2 separate regions of the Homo sapiens genome follow, and region 1 is reported to be linked to region 2. The links are microRNA targets in miRTarBase. Many come from high-throughput screens and were not tested one by one. Region 2 holds a microRNA gene; the other region holds the end of a gene's coding sequence.

The links. Region 2 holds the annotated microRNA hsa-miR-192-5p (CUGACCUAUGAAUUGACAGCC, at 2,710-2,730, opposite strand). A microRNA usually pairs through its seed, bases 2 to 8, with sites in the 3' UTR of a target mRNA and lowers its output. Matches are read on the target gene's strand: a 7mer-m8 pairs with bases 2 to 8, a 7mer-A1 pairs with bases 2 to 7 and ends in A, and an 8mer does both.
Region 1: miRTarBase lists GAREM2 as a target of hsa-miR-192-5p. Seed matches in the 3' UTR shown: 7mer-m8 at 5,326-5,332.

What each region holds. Positions count from the first base shown.
Region 1 is chr2:26,187,179-26,194,410 of GRCh38, reverse strand. It overlaps GAREM2 (GRB2 associated regulator of MAPK1 subtype 2), which reads right to left. Exons shown (of 6, transcript NM_001168241.2): 6 at 4,748-7,180. The coding sequence ends at 6,154. It overlaps HADHA (hydroxyacyl-CoA dehydrogenase trifunctional multienzyme complex subunit alpha), which reads left to right. Exons shown (of 20, transcript NM_000182.5): 17 at 639-834; 18 at 1,987-2,101; 19 at 2,783-2,928; 20 at 3,016-3,776. The coding sequence ends at 3,161. Among named protein-coding and RNA genes, the nearest start is that of GAREM2, 18 kb to the right of the region's middle.
Region 2 is chr11:64,888,494-64,895,725 of GRCh38, forward strand. MIR192 (microRNA 192) reads right to left here and starts at 2,753; the gene lies at 2,644-2,753. ATG2A (autophagy related 2A) reads right to left here. Exons shown (of 41, transcript NM_015104.3): 40 at 6,797-6,949; 41 at 6,053-6,716. The coding sequence ends at 6,480. MIR194-2HG (MIR194-2 host gene) reads right to left here and starts at 4,956. Exons shown (of 3, transcript NR_133640.1): 1 at 4,918-4,956; 2 at 4,097-4,333; 3 at 1-847. MIR194-2 (microRNA 194-2) reads right to left here and starts at 2,946; the gene lies at 2,862-2,946.

The DNA of each region.
Region 1 (7,232 bases), not on the chromosome of region 2:
GTTGGGCTTATACTGCACTGAAAGGGGCAGAGCTTTCCCTCTGCCCCACAGCCTCCTCACTGTTCCAGCAAGCTAAAGGCACCCCACCCCCCAGCATGTCTTCTATGCTGTTTCTGCACCTCTCTGAGGCAGGGACCATCCAGAACAGGGCCCGCTTGGTTCAACTGGTGCTGCATCTGTTTCCACAGCACACAGACCTCTCCAGTAGCCATCGAGGTCATTCTGGCAGGAAAGGAGAGGGATCCTCCTCGCTGGGCACTTACCCAGACTTGGGGATCACAGGGCTCTGAGTGCTCCTCTTTGATGATGTTTCTTCTGTTGGTCATGACACACTCAGCCGTCTGTCATGCAATCTCCTTATTATTGAGATTCAGAAATGCAAACAAGAAGAAAATGAAGAATTTAGTCATCTCTAAACGTCCTTAAAGTGCTGTAGATTAGAGAAGGCTCAGACTTTCCACTTGTGGCCCCAAACTTCTTTGTGCTTCCCTGAATGAAATAGCACCAGTCCTGGGCCTGGTCAGGTGACACTCAGAAGTGGGTTTTACACAAGGCAGTGTTTGGAGCCAGTACAGGGAGCCCTTTGGGGGGATTTGGGCTGCCCTTCCCCTGAGGTCCCTGCATCGCTTCCTGTTCAGGAAGGAGTTGACCCGAAGAAGCTGGATTCCCTGACCACAAGCTTTGGCTTTCCTGTGGGTGCCGCCACACTGGTGGATGAAGTTGGTGTGGATGTAGCGAAACATGTGGCGGAAGATCTGGGCAAAGTCTTTGGGGAGCGGTTTGGAGGTGGAAACCCAGAACTGCTGACACAGATGGTGTCCAAGGGCTTCCTAGGTGAGTAGCCTCAAGGAAACATAACTAGCACCATTAGTTACAAAGTTCTAAGCAGTTCCTGAGACCAAAGAGTTACAGAAGCCCTCGTGGAAGAAAGTTTTCTAAACACAGAGCCCTTATCACTGGCGATTTCAAAAATGATTTTATGAGTCAGGTGCGGTAGCAACCACTTATGGTCTTAGCTGCTTAGGAGGCTGAGGTGGGAGGATCGCTTGAGCCCAGAAGTGTGAGGCCAGCCTGGGCAACATGGCGAGGCCCCTTCTCAAAAAAAAAAAAAAAAAAAGATGTCATGTGAACCTTCTAAGGGCTAGGACTATAGATTATGGACAAAAGGCAGAGTTCTACCCTTCTGGGGCTCTAGCATCACCTGGTCCAAGTTATGCCAGATGGACAAGCATTTTTATCCCCCAGAGATGAAATCTGCAATAGTGCAGAAGCAAGCTCTGCATCCGGGCTTTACCATGCTGTCTGGCCACCTGTGAGGAGAATGTATAAGCTCACCATACACAGTATACAGTTGAGGCCCACAGAGAAGTGACTTTCTGTCTTGGCAAAACAGCAAAATCAGCATTACAACCTGGGTGTTCTAGGACCCGGTGCTGCATATGGGGATGTTAAAACTCACCCAGGTGGCCTTTCTCATCCATGTACACAGATGCCCAAGCTCCGGGTCACAAGATCTTCTTTCCTTCTCTGCCCACTCTTCTGACAAAGACTAATTTGCTAGGGTTAGCTAGACATACAAATTCAGGAATTCAGAAGAGGCCAGAGCTTTATAATAGACCAACAGAGACAAGAATTCTCAGGTCAGGGTCTTTTTTGTTTGTTTTTTGTTTTTTTTTGAGACAGAGTCTCACACTGTTGCCCAGGCTGGAGTGCAGTGGCATAATCTCGTCTCCACCTCCCGGGTTCAAGCGATCCTCCTGCTTCGCCCAGCTAATTTTTGTATTTTTAGTAGAGATGGGGTTTCACCATGTTGGCCAGGCTGGTCTCAAACTCCTGACCTCAAATGATCCTCCGCCTCGGCCTCCCAAAGTGCTGGGATTACAGGCGTGAGCCACCACGCCTGGCCAGGCCAGGGTTCTGAGAACAAATAGTAACACTCCCTCCCTGAGAACAAATAGTAACACTCCCTTTTCTTGCCTGTTTTAGGTCGTAAATCTGGGAAGGGCTTTTACATCTATCAGGAGGGTGTGAAGAGGAAGGATTTGAATTCTGACATGGATAGTATTTTAGCGAGTCTGAAGCTGCCTCCTAAGTCTGAAGTGTAAGTCCGTTTGAGTGGCTAATGCCTGGAAATTGACTTTCTCTGACAGCCCAAAGCTTCCCAGCCCCTCTTCCATTTTTTTTTTTTTTTAATACTTTAAGTCCTGGGATACATGTGCAGGTTTGTTACATAGGTATACACGTGCCATGGTGCTGTCTTCCATTTTCTTTGTGACCACCATACCTGAACAGGAGGACCACTCCTGATGCTGGCATGGTGCTTTCCAAGTGGAAGGCCCTCGCACGTGCTCCTTGGTCTCTGCCCAGCATCTAGGTGAGAACCAGGCCACGTCTGGTGAAGGCCCTCCCCTGCTCCAGCCTTCTCTGGCAAGTTCCCAGAGAGCCGCTGGAAGGACAGATTCTCCTTGGCCCCTTCACCCTCCCAGATCTTTATTATCATTTGTGAGCAGCTGACTGTTGCTGATGTCAAAGAGATACTGATTATCTTCTCGGCACCAGGCCCTGTTCTAGGTGCTCAGTTTCATGTTAATTAGGGCAAGTTACTCTCCACTTTTTCCATGGGAAAGTTTGGTTCACCCAGGCAGCATCTTCTCTGAGGGCCAGCACCAACCGGCCCACAGAGCTCCCCATGCACCCATCCCGACTTCCATTCTGCATCTGCGGCTCTGGCTTTCCTCCCCTTTTCCTCTTCTTCTACCTAAACATCTCTTTCTGTTGGCAGCTCATCAGACGAAGACATCCAGTTCCGCCTGGTGACAAGATTTGTGAATGAGGCAGTCATGTGCCTGCAAGAGGGGATCTTGGCCACACCTGCAGAGGGAGACATCGGAGCCGTCTTTGGGCTTGGCTTCCCGCCTTGTCTGGGAGGTTGGTCTCGCAGGTTGGGAAGGAAGCTCACTTTAGCCTGGAGCCCGTGTTGCGTCTCCTTCAACGAAGTCCTCTTTCTCTATTCAGGGCCTTTCCGCTTTGTGGATCTGTATGGCGCCCAGAAGATAGTGGACCGGCTCAAGAAATATGAAGCTGCCTATGGAAAACAGTTCACCCCATGCCAGCTGCTAGCTGACCATGCTAACAGCCCTAACAAGAAGTTCTACCAGTGAGCAGGCCTCATGCCTCGCTCAGTCAGTGCACTAACCCCAGCTGCCGGCAGTGCTGGTTCTCCAACAGAGTGGTGTCTAGATTTATCAGAGTAACGAGAAGACAAACTCCGGCACTGGGTTTGCTCCCTGATTAAAGTGCCTTCAGCCAAGACCATCTCTCCCTCCTGGTGAAGTGTGACTTCGAATTAGTTTGCACTTCCTGTTGGAAGGTAGAGCCCACTGCTCATTGTATAAGCCCCGAGGCCTAGAGTGGCAGCCAAGAGCCATCTGAAGCCACCTCTCTGCCTGTTCCTCCCAAGAGGCCAGGGTGGCCAGGGGTGGTGAGGGCAGTTCTGCACCCAGCCAAACACATAACAATAAAAACCAAACTCTGTGTCAGCATCTTTGCCCTTCTGGTTTAAACGCCTCCTTCAAAAAGCAATCTGGAAGAAAGCCCTGTGCTTTGGGGGAGTAAGAATGTGTGTGCAGAATTCTAGGCAGCACCTTAGGGAGGGACTGGGATGAGAGAAAGTGGGACCTGGTGGGCTCAACCACACACACCTGTCTGTGCAGATGCTTTGCCCAGGCTTCTCACCACGGTGTACCGGGATATTAAACCTCTTTCCCCAGCCTGGATTTCCTCATTGTGTGATCTTACCCATTTCTTTTCTGGGTGTGCCTCATTCATAGGTGCTTCTTGGGATGGTTGTGGGAACGTTGGTGCTAAGCAGAGGCGCTGACATCTCCCTTGATGTTCGGAGATCCTGCATAGCAGGGCTGCCCCAGAAATGCCTGTGCGGTAATCAGGCAGCACGGGAGCAGCATGAGGAGTGCTGACCCCCACAGCACCTGCACTCCCCCAAAGCTTCAGCCCCTCCCCACCCCACCCCCTGGGATGGAAAGTTCCTACAGAAGCAGTGCCCAGTCTGGGTAAACAGCACTGGGGCTAACTGGGTCTGGCAGAAGGATCCACGCTGAGTGTGTGCGGAATCGTAATTCCAGTCCCATCACATTCTGCATTCTAAATTGTCAGATATTACCAGTTACTCCTGCCTCTGCTCCAGTTGTACTTCAAATATGTCCCTGGTCCCAGCTCTGTAGCTGGGACTGGCAGGCAAGGAGATCAGGTCTGGCTCTGCTTGGTCACTAGGAAGCCAGACTCTAAAACCAAGTCACCTCTGAGTTGAGGTTTTCAGATGACCAGAGTAGGGAGCTGATCCCTTGCACCAAAGCCATTAACCGGTTTCCAAATTTGGTCTGAGAGAGCCTGAAGCCGGCATTCTGCCAATGCAGGAAGCTAAGCTTGGGCCCTGGCTGGTGGCATTCAGCTTTGAGCCTGGGTCTTTCCCTTCAGTAACACCAGGTAGGTGTGAATTATGTTGAAACTAGTGGAAGCTGGGGTGGGGGTTCTTGAAGGGTAGGGAGGGGCTGGCGAGGGCCCTGCAGAAGGGAATGAAGGCTGCCACCAGCCGCCTCCACAGACATGGGAATGGCCACACACCCACATCATTCCTCCATCAGTCCTCTCCTGCCAGAAGGCATATACACTGTGCCCATGGGTCCCCATGGCCTTGTTTTCAAAAGAAGAAAGCAGCTGGCACCCAGAATGCCACTTGTACTCATCTTCAGCAGTCTAGCATTTATTTCATTAGTCCTTGAGGATTCATTAAATGATCTGCAAGAAAACCAAATGTCCCCACATCACAGGTTCTGTGCTCTACTCTCTGACCACTTCTCTGAGCTGAGGCAGCCTGCTTGGAGTATGGGCACCAGCATGGCTTAGCTACTTTTAAGATAAAAAGTGGAGGAAATAAATAGGTAGACTAGGTAAGGCAGAAGAGAAGGCTGGCACTTTGGGCCCTGACACTAGTGGGCACCCTGTGGTTCTGGGTGAGATGGAGGACACGGATGGGGTGGGGTGTGTGGTTGGACACAATGACCAGAGCTCTGGGTACCAAGCAGATCCCCATGTTTGAGATTCAAGGGCACAAAGGCCTGCTGTGAGGCACGTGAACAAATGCAGGACTGAGCTCCAGGAACGCACTCTCCCAACTGTACCCTCCTGTGCCAGTGACAGAAAACCAGGGAAAAACACCAAGTATTGTCAGAGACAAATGATGGGGGCAAGAGATTGGCGGAATTGGAGGTGGTTGACTACCGCTTGCTTCTAGAATCAAGGAGAAGCTGACCTAAATCAACCTGCTCTTCCACGGAATCAGTATTCTGAGACTGAACGCCACCTGACGGATGGATGACTAGCTGCAGTAAAGTCAGAGCAGAAGCCAGGGTGCTAGAGTCATCTGGGCAGTGTCTGGCTTCCTAACTAGATAAGTGGGTCGGGTCAATTGCAGAGCTGTGCTCTTCCAAAGTTGTCACCCATGAACCAGGACCCACAGGTGGAGCCTCTGAGGTGCCATGGGTTAGGCTTGTACACGACTCACCTGTGTGCGGGGCCAGGCCCCACCCCCCTCAACCACGGTGGAGCAGAGGGGGAAGGGAAAGGCATCTCACAGACACAGACATCTACACCCTCACTCTGGGGCAGCTTTAGGCCAAAAGCCAACAGAGCACAAAGGAGAGTGGGCACTTGGGAAATCGGTGCTTAAATTACCAGCCATCTTCTTGTCTCTAAACAGAGCCTACAGGCTTCAGCAGTGGAAGTCGTTTGTGAAGGTCTATAGCAGGGCATGAGGTGGTGTTAGGTCACCCTGAAGGCCAGCTTTTGACCCCGTTGTGGGAATCACGGCAAATGCCTTACTGGGCCCAGGTACACAGTGGTGCCCCCAGCCCCTTCCCCATGTACTCTGCACACTCAAAGGCAAGATGTCCCGTGCAGGGGTCTGACCCCAGAGGACCACATTTCCACATGCATCTCCCCTGGATCCACCCAGTGGCTGCTGAGCAGCCTCAGTCTCGACATAGATCCTTCTTGCAGGCAGCACCTGCTCCTCCGGAGTGCTGTACCTGGGGCCCCCATACCAGCATTCCAGCTGTGCAGCTCCAGCTGGGCAGTTCAGATCTTGGGCCTCCAGCCTTTGATGAACTGCATGATCTTCTTGACCTGCAGCTTGGTGAGGTGGAAGTCATCTGCCAGGATGTCCTCACTGAGCTGCACAAAGATGCTACCATCGATGCGTTCTCGGGCAAAGAAGCTCACCACATCCTCTGAGAGCCCGATGAAACGCAGACTGCGAGAGACCTCCTCCAGGGAGAGTGCAGACAGGTCAGCAGGGGGCTGCCAGGAGGAGGCATCTCGGACTCCAAAGCCTGTGGCTCCATCCCGGGGACTGGCAGGAGGCCCTTCCAGGCGCCCTTGGGTTAGAAAAAGTGCTCCTCCCGCCTCGGGTCCCTGCAGAGCAGCTGGTGACAGTGGGGTGGGGACCTGGTGCAGCACCAAACCTTCAGGCTCAAAGGCCTTGGAGGGGCCAAGTGGTGAAAGGCGGGGTCCAGGCCCAGGTGTCCCCACTGCTCTGGGCTCCTGAGAACGCAGCAGCTCAGGCTCTGGAGAACTGCCCTGCCCCAGCTCAAAGGGATCGAAGGGCTCCAGGACTGGTTCCTGCCATTCAGAAGAAGAGGAGGAGGAGGGGGCGCAGGAGGAGGGGGGAGCAGCTGAATAGGCCTGGCCTGGCGAGGCTGGGCCTGGGGAATACGCAGGGCCAGAGGTAGCCACAGGACCCGAGGTGGTTCTGGGCCCAGAAGACAAGGCCGCTGAAGGGCCTGAGGGGTAGGCAGGCCCGGAAAAAGGGTTGAGAGCTCCAAACGGAGCAAAGCGCTTCTGGGGATGTGAGGGCTTGAATAGAGGAGGGCAGCTGTGGTAGGTCTTAACAGGGGTGTCAGCCCCCAGAAGGGAGGCGGCTCGACCGCTCAGAGGCTCTGTGAGGGCCCGGGAGGCCTGGCTGGGCTGTGTGGTTGAGGGTAGGGGACCGGGGGCTGGGCGGCTAGAGGACTCGCCCACCTTGCAGTCTCCCCAGGTGCATGGGTAGCAATAGAGGGAGTAGGTGTCCGGCGATGGGGAGCCACTGCCACTGCGGGAACCCGCCCTGTGGACAGAGACAGACACACACACATAGGACAGGTGAGGCTGAGAGGGAA
Region 2 (7,232 bases):
TGAGTCTGAGGCTACAGGAAAAAAGTCAGTGGCCGCCACTCCTGGGGGCTTTCAGGCTGGTGGGGGAAATAGCCCGGTGTGGGTGATGGGGCATGATGGGGGCGCTAACATCCCAGCCACAGAGCATCCAGGGAGCCAGTGAGTGGGGTAATGGGGGGCGGGGCGGGGGGCCAGGCAGGTGTCCGCGAGGGAGTGACCCTTGGGCAGGTCTTGAGGAGTTCTGAGAGGGGTTGGAGGTGAGACCCAGGCCAGGGAAATGTGCATGGGCCCAGGGCCTGCTGGGTAAAGGACACAGGTCAGTGGGCTCAAGGAGCTGGGGGAGGGTGCTGGATCCGCCTTGCTCATGCATTGGAACAGGTCTCCAATAGCCCTCGCAGGCCTTTGTGGGATCGCAGTGCTCTGCAGAGGCAGATGCAGGAGGACCCCCAGGGCAGGGTGGCTGCTGTCTGCTCCCCTTTCACCCTATGCCAGTGCTCTGAGTCTGAGGCCTGACAGCCCCAAGAGGGTTAGAGTCCAGGGCCCTACCATCCAGCCCATGTATCCTGAACACCTACTATGCTGGTGGGTGGGGGAAGCAGCCAGGGAGGATGAGTAAGTCATGGACCTTGCCCTCAAGGAGTCTGAAACTAGCACAGGATTAGATAAGCACACAGGGCTCCTTAACTCTGTAGGGAATGAGATAAGGGTGGCGGGAGAGGCCCACGAAGCCGGGGTGTGGGCAGAGAGGGGAGCAGCGCCTGCAGAGTCATGGGATGGTCTGCAGGGAGGGGTTGCTGAGCTGGGCCACGGCAGGGGCCAATCGGGGCCCAGGGATTCAGAGCAGCCAGGACAGTGTGAGCAGAGCTGCCTGTGGGAAGGGGAGAGAGACAGTGTCTTAGGGGCCAGATGTTTGTTGGCTGCCTACAGTCCCCAGGAGAAGGTCCAACTTGCTCTGTGACTTCAGCAAATGTGCACCCTCTCTGAGCCTGTGTCCTCCTGTCCCAAACAGGTTCATGATGGATGCCAGGAGGACCAGGTCCTGGATGTGCGTGCCCAGCAGACAGAAAGGGCTCAATAGCCAACGCCTGTTATTAAGCAATTTGACATTTATTCCTAGGTCTCTATTTCCCATTTTACAAATTTTATTTTGTAGTACCAGAAACCTTTTTATTCAAATGAAAAATTCTGACAGGGCACAGTGGCTCATGCCTGTAATCCCAGCAGTTTGGGGGGCTGAGGCAGGACTGCTTGAGGCCAGGAATTTGAGACCAGCCTGGGCAACATGGTGAAACCCCATCTCTACGAAAAATACAAAAATTAACCAGGCATGGTGGCACGTGCCTGTAGTCACAGCTATTTGGGAGGCTGAGATGGGAGGACTGTGTGAGCCCTGGCAGGTGGAGGCTGCAGCAAGCTGTGATTGTACCACTGCGCTCCAGCCTGGGTGACAAAGCGAGCAAGACCCTGTCTCAAAAAAAAAAAAAAAAAAAAAGGAAAATTTCCTCAGAACCCCGTTGTATAAGAAACAGGTGGGGCTGGGCGCGGTGGCTCACACCTATAATCCCGGCACTCTGGGAGGCCGAGGTGGGCAGATTATCTGAGGTCAGGAGTTCGAGACCAGCCTGGCCAACATGGTGAAACCCAGTCTCTACTAAAAACACAAAAATTAGCTGGGCATGGTGGTGCATGCCTGTAATCTCAGCTATTTGGGAGGCTGAGGCAGGAGAATCGCTTGAACCCAGGAGGCAGAGGTTGCAGTGAGCTGAGATCATGCCAGGAGGGGAGGCTTCCTCCTGGGAGGAAGCCTGTTGCATTCCAGCCTGGGCAACAGAGCAAGACTCTGTCTCAAAACAAACAAACAAACACCACAAAGAAATAGGTGGAAATGAGGCTGTTGTGGGAGGCGGGACAGGGGTGGGGTCAGCTGTCCTGTCCTGGGTTGGCTGCTCTTCCTCTACCAGCAGCTGGGGTCCTGGGCCCTCTTAGGAATCCTAGGGGCTGGAGAAGCTGCTCCACCAACCACAGGGCTGTGCTCCAGGGAGATGAGACTGGCAAAGGAGGGGAGAGTAGGAAGCAGATGGGGAGGCTGGCTCAGGGCCCCATCCTGGGTGGGGGGGCTCCAGCACAAACACTGGGCCTAGAGCACTCAGCCCCCCTTGGCCACACTGCATGTCGGTGGGTGCTTCCTCAGGGTGCAAGACAGAGGCTCAGGATTGGTTCAGCAAACATTTATTGGGCACGCGCCTGGGCTGGGAACTGAGCTCACAGATGGGGAGAGGAGCGAGACATAAGCAGAAACCAGCACCGGGGCTCCGAGAGGGCAGTGCTCTGCGGCAGCACTGTGTGGGGGTGCCCAGGTGGGGACTTAGAAGCTTCAATAAGGCCTTCTGGAGGCAGCAAATGCTTGGACAGAGCTTGAAAGGGTTAGTAAGAGTGAGCCTGGCAAATAAGCTAGGAAGAGTATTGCAGCCCAAGGGAACAGCATGGGCAAAGCATAGAGGTGCCACAGGGCAGGCAGGGCAGGGGCAGGACTGAAGCTGTTCAGGCTCATTCACGGGGAATGAGACAGAGGGAGGTGGGACCATGAGTGCTGCACTGGGGTCGCAGGATCTCTGCTGACTGCTGGACACCCCCGGCCCTCCCCTATCCCTGCAGGTCCTGGTGGCTGGCATTGAGGCGAACATACCTGTGACCTATGGAATTGGCAGCCAGAGGGGAGACGAGAGCACTGGCTGTCAATTCATAGGTCAGAGCCCTGTGCACTCGGTCTCGGCAGCCCACCGACAGCCCTCCACTACCCGCCACCATCTGGCCTGGGAGCGTCGCCACGGTAGTCCTGGCTGGTCTGCTGGCCAGCACCTGCCTCTCCTTCTTCGTGGGTACTGGCCCTCGCCCCAGATAACAGCAGCCCCACTGGAACCAGTGGGCACTTCCACATGGAGTTGCTGTTACAGGGGGCGGGAACCAATTGGAGACCGGGGCCCTGCCTGGCGTCCGCCTTCGGCAGGGCTCTGGAGAGTGTCCCATGCCCACTCACCTGGGCTCCCCAGTCTTCGTGGCCCCAGGTCCATGGTCTTTTCACCGAGGCTTCTTATCATCCGGGGCCCACACCTGGCGCCCCGTGTGCTGCCAGCACTCCTTCCTGGGCAAAGTCCAGGCTCAACCCCAAATCGGCCTCATAAAGCCGGGAGCGGCTCGGATTTACAACTCCTGGGCAGCCTTTGCCCGCTCTGATGACCCCACGCCCTCTGTCCCCAAGTTATTTTGTTTCCTTGTTTCTTTCCCAACCAGAGCTGGGCCTCAGTTTCAGGTTTGGCCACTGTCACCTCTGCCCTTTGCCCACCCTCCCTGCTGCAGCCATGGGGCAGAGAGACAGCAAGGGACAGCTGGCACTTGTCAGTCCCCAGGGACCTCCCAGTGCCTGATTTCATGAGGATGGCCTCGTATGGGAAGCTGAAGATGAGACTAAGAAGAAGTGTGGGGGGCTGTGTGGGGGAGGGCACAGAAAGAGGGATAGTGAGGCAGAGGGGCTGAGAGAGGAAGAGAAGAGTAAGGCCGAGGATGGCGGTGCACACCTGGCATCCCAGCACTTTGGGAGACCAAGGTGGGAGGATCTCTTGAGCCCAGGAGTGCAAGACCAGCCTGGGCAACACAGTGAGACCCCATCTCTACAAAAAATAAAAAATTAGCCTGGTGTGGTGATGCATGCCTGTGGTCCCAGCTACTCAAGAGGCTGAGGCGGGGGATCACTTGAGCCTGGGAGGTCGAGGCTCCAGTGAGCTGGGATTGTGCCACTGCACTCCAGCCTCAGTGACAAAGAAAGACCCTGTCTCAAATAAAAATAAGAGGAGCAGGTAGAGAACTAGAAAGGAACAGAGAAAACAAACAGGGATAGTGGATGACGAGGTGTAGGAAGGGGGACGACAGGGAACTGGAAAAGATGTAGATACACAAACCTGCCGCAGAACATGAGGAACAGGCTGTGAGCAGTGGCTCGCCTGGAAGGACGCTTAGGACCTCAGTGGCCTGGAAGACAGCAGGGGCCTGGGAGCTGGGTGACCTTGAGCAAGTAGCGTAACCTCTCTGAACCACTGTCCATATGTCAATCAGGACTTACGAGGCCACCCTGCACGCTGGGCTGGCCTGGTGGGAAGCATCCGCCCTGGGACCCTTGGGTCTCTCTCCGCTGTGGGGAGAGGAAGCAGCTGCTGGCCAGGGTCCCTGAGTGAGCCCAGGGCTCTGTGAGGCAGAGCTTCCTCTTGCAAAGCGTGTTCTCGTCCCTCCCAGACAGGTTCCGGTGACAGGTGCCAGTCCTGCAGAGACCCAGCAGGCATTTTGGGAGACTCCAAAGCTTCTGGAGAGAAAGGGGAGCTTTTAGAGTAGACTTGGGCCCTGCCCCCTTTGCCAGTGGTGCATACAGGCCTAGAGAGACAGAGGGGGCCGCCCAAGGTCACAGAGCAGGGCCCCAGGGCCTGTGCTGCCCCAACAACCTTCCCGAAGTGGCGTCCCCCCTTCTCAGGATGCAGTCAGGGTGGGATGGGGGATCCCTGGGCTGGAATCCTTCTGCCTGGGGGGACAGACCTGCGAAGGAAGACACCGTAGCTGGTGGCTGGCCCTCCACTCAGCCTGGCGGCCCTTCCCACAGAGGCCTGGGCGAGACCAGCCTCCTGCAGCGTGGTGTCCAAGTGCCCTGGCCTGGCAGAGACAGCGCCCGATCAGGAATCCTGGCTCCACAGCTCTGAGCGCTGATGCTAAGGCCCCCTTATCCCACAGTGGAAACCAAGGCACAGAGAGGAAGGGGCTCGTCCCGGCCACCCCATGGCTGTCCAGGTCCCTTTCTTCCTCAGGATTGGCCACCCTTCAGAGAGGTGCCTGGGTTCAGGAGCCTCCTAGGACAGGGAGGGCGGCAGGGGTCCTACCACTCAGGAAGCCTCTTACCTGAGTGCCGGGCTGGCCTTCGGGGCACAAGGAGGAAGTGGGGACACCCTGGGCCCAGGGCCTTTTGAGCCGTTGACCCAGCCCCTGGTGGTGGTTAATGATTATCCCACCACCGTCAATACTGATCACAAGTGCGGTTCGAAGGGCAGGAAGCCCTGGACTGTGCCCGGGCAGGGTGGGGCGGGTCCAGGAAGCATCAGGCTGGGCCCCATCTGCCTCTCCGGGTGGCATCAGCACCGAGTCTCCACAGCCCTGTCTCCTCCAGGGCCTCGCCCTCCTGGTCTCTTACCAGCCTGCTGCCCCAGCTGTCCGTGGGCAGCCAGGACCCCAGGGTCCCTCGGGACAAAGCTTCTGCTCTGTTCCCAGTACCCAGATCTCCCCCACTCAGAAGGGGCCACAGAGCAGGGCTGGGGGACCTTTGCTAACCCCAGAGGCCTGCGGAACCTAGCAAGGTGAGGGTTCCCTGATTCCCAACCCGAGCCTTGGTTTCCCCATGGACCCACCCACCTCTGTGCAGCGCCACTGGGAAGCAGGGCAGGGAGGAGCGCGATGGGAGCAGCTCACAAGAAACAAGATGTGTGGGGGGCAATGGGCGCTCCCTGGTCCTGTGTAAAGCTTTGTGCAGTGAGGGTTGGGATTCCGGCTGCAGCGCTGCTCCAGCACCCCTCCCCCCTCCAAGTGCTGGAGCTGGGACCCCAGATCAGAGTGGAAACCAAGGGGCCAAGGCCTGGGCCACCCCAAAAGCCCCCACTAGGGATGGTGAGAGCAACATCTAGAATGCCTCAGGCTCAGCCTTCCCCGAGTGGCCTCAAGTGACAACCAGGCAGGGTCAGCTGGGCTCCAAGGACCATCCCTCCCTCCCCTGGCAGCCCCACGTAGCTCCTGCCACATCAGGAGTGGGGCTGGAGTGGCAGCCTCCTGGGAGGGGCAAGGCAGAGCCCAGAGCCAGGGGAAGGCGTGCAGGGCTGGGTGCCTCTGGGTCCCCCTGTGCCCTGATCTGCTGGGCAAGGCCAGGAGGCATGGCGACCCCTGGTGGTGACATGGGAGGTGCTGGGTGCAGAGGTGGGATCTGGGGCGGGGCCAAGGTCAAGGCTGAGGCCAGGGTTCACAGGGACAGAGGATCTGAGAGGGGGGCTGGCGGTGGGCAGTTTATTCCACTTCATGCAGACACTGACCCACGCACTCACGGAGCTTAAAAATAATACATCGAACCACACGGATATCATCCCCTCCTCCCCCCAGACACAGAAAGACACTTGGCTGAGTGGGATGGGGTCCGAGGGTCCAAAAGCCTCCGTCCTGGGAGAAGGCAGCAGTGTGGGCCCAGGTCGGGGGAGGGGCAGTGTCCTTTCTCCCCGGAGGAAAAGTGCAGAGCCAGGGCTAAGGCCCCAAGGCAGGGAGGCCCCCCTCTCACAGCAGATTGGCAACGGGCAGGCTGGGAAGGCGTCCTTCACAGTGGCCATCCCCTGAAGGGCCAGGCCGGGCCGGGCCCGTGGGCTGCAGCTCTTGGGAGGCTCAGGAGCATGGTGGGCAGCACCCTCTGGGTGCCGGGCACCCCAGGCTCAGTCTTGGGCACTGTCCGAGCGCCACTTGAGGGCGTGGTCCTTGTGGGCGTCGGGGACAATCTGGTTGCGCATGCCCCCGAGCAGGCTGGACGTGGCCTCCGTGGCCAGGATGAGCGGCTTCACCACAGTCGGGGGCAGCTGGCGGATCACGCCCCCCACGGCGCCCGTCAGCCCCTTCTGCTCATGGCCCCGCGATGCCACGTCACAGATGGTCTGAGCTGTATCCAAGATGCCCTGTGGAAGCCAGAGGTCAGGGCGGGGTCTGTGTGAGGAGATGGGCATGGGGGACTGGGGCAGGGCGGGGGCCTGGTCACCTCTCGCACTGTGTCGTAGGCCTTGGCCACACCCTCCCGCAGGTCGGCAGGCTGCTGGCCCCTGCGCAGCCTCCGCGCAGAGCGCTTATCCTGCAGGGAGCGGGAGACGGGGGCTGCCGGGGACAGGATGTCATACACGGTCTCAGCTGTGGCCTGGGGGACATGGGAGCACTGGATGAGGACAGCTGGCTGGGGCACACGTCAGCCCCAGGCCCCCAGGACAGTCTGAGACCCCACCAGCCCTCAGCCTCCCTGCCTGTCACTGTGCTGGCCTAGGGGGTCCTGCTCAGCCTCACTCCCCACTTCCTCCCACTCTTCCTCCCCTTCCTAGGCACCTGCCACTCTGCTGAGGGAACCTAGGAACGTGGGACTCCTCAGGGGACTTTCCTAAAGTCTTCTCAACCCAAACCTCTCTTCCTGCTGACCACCACATTCA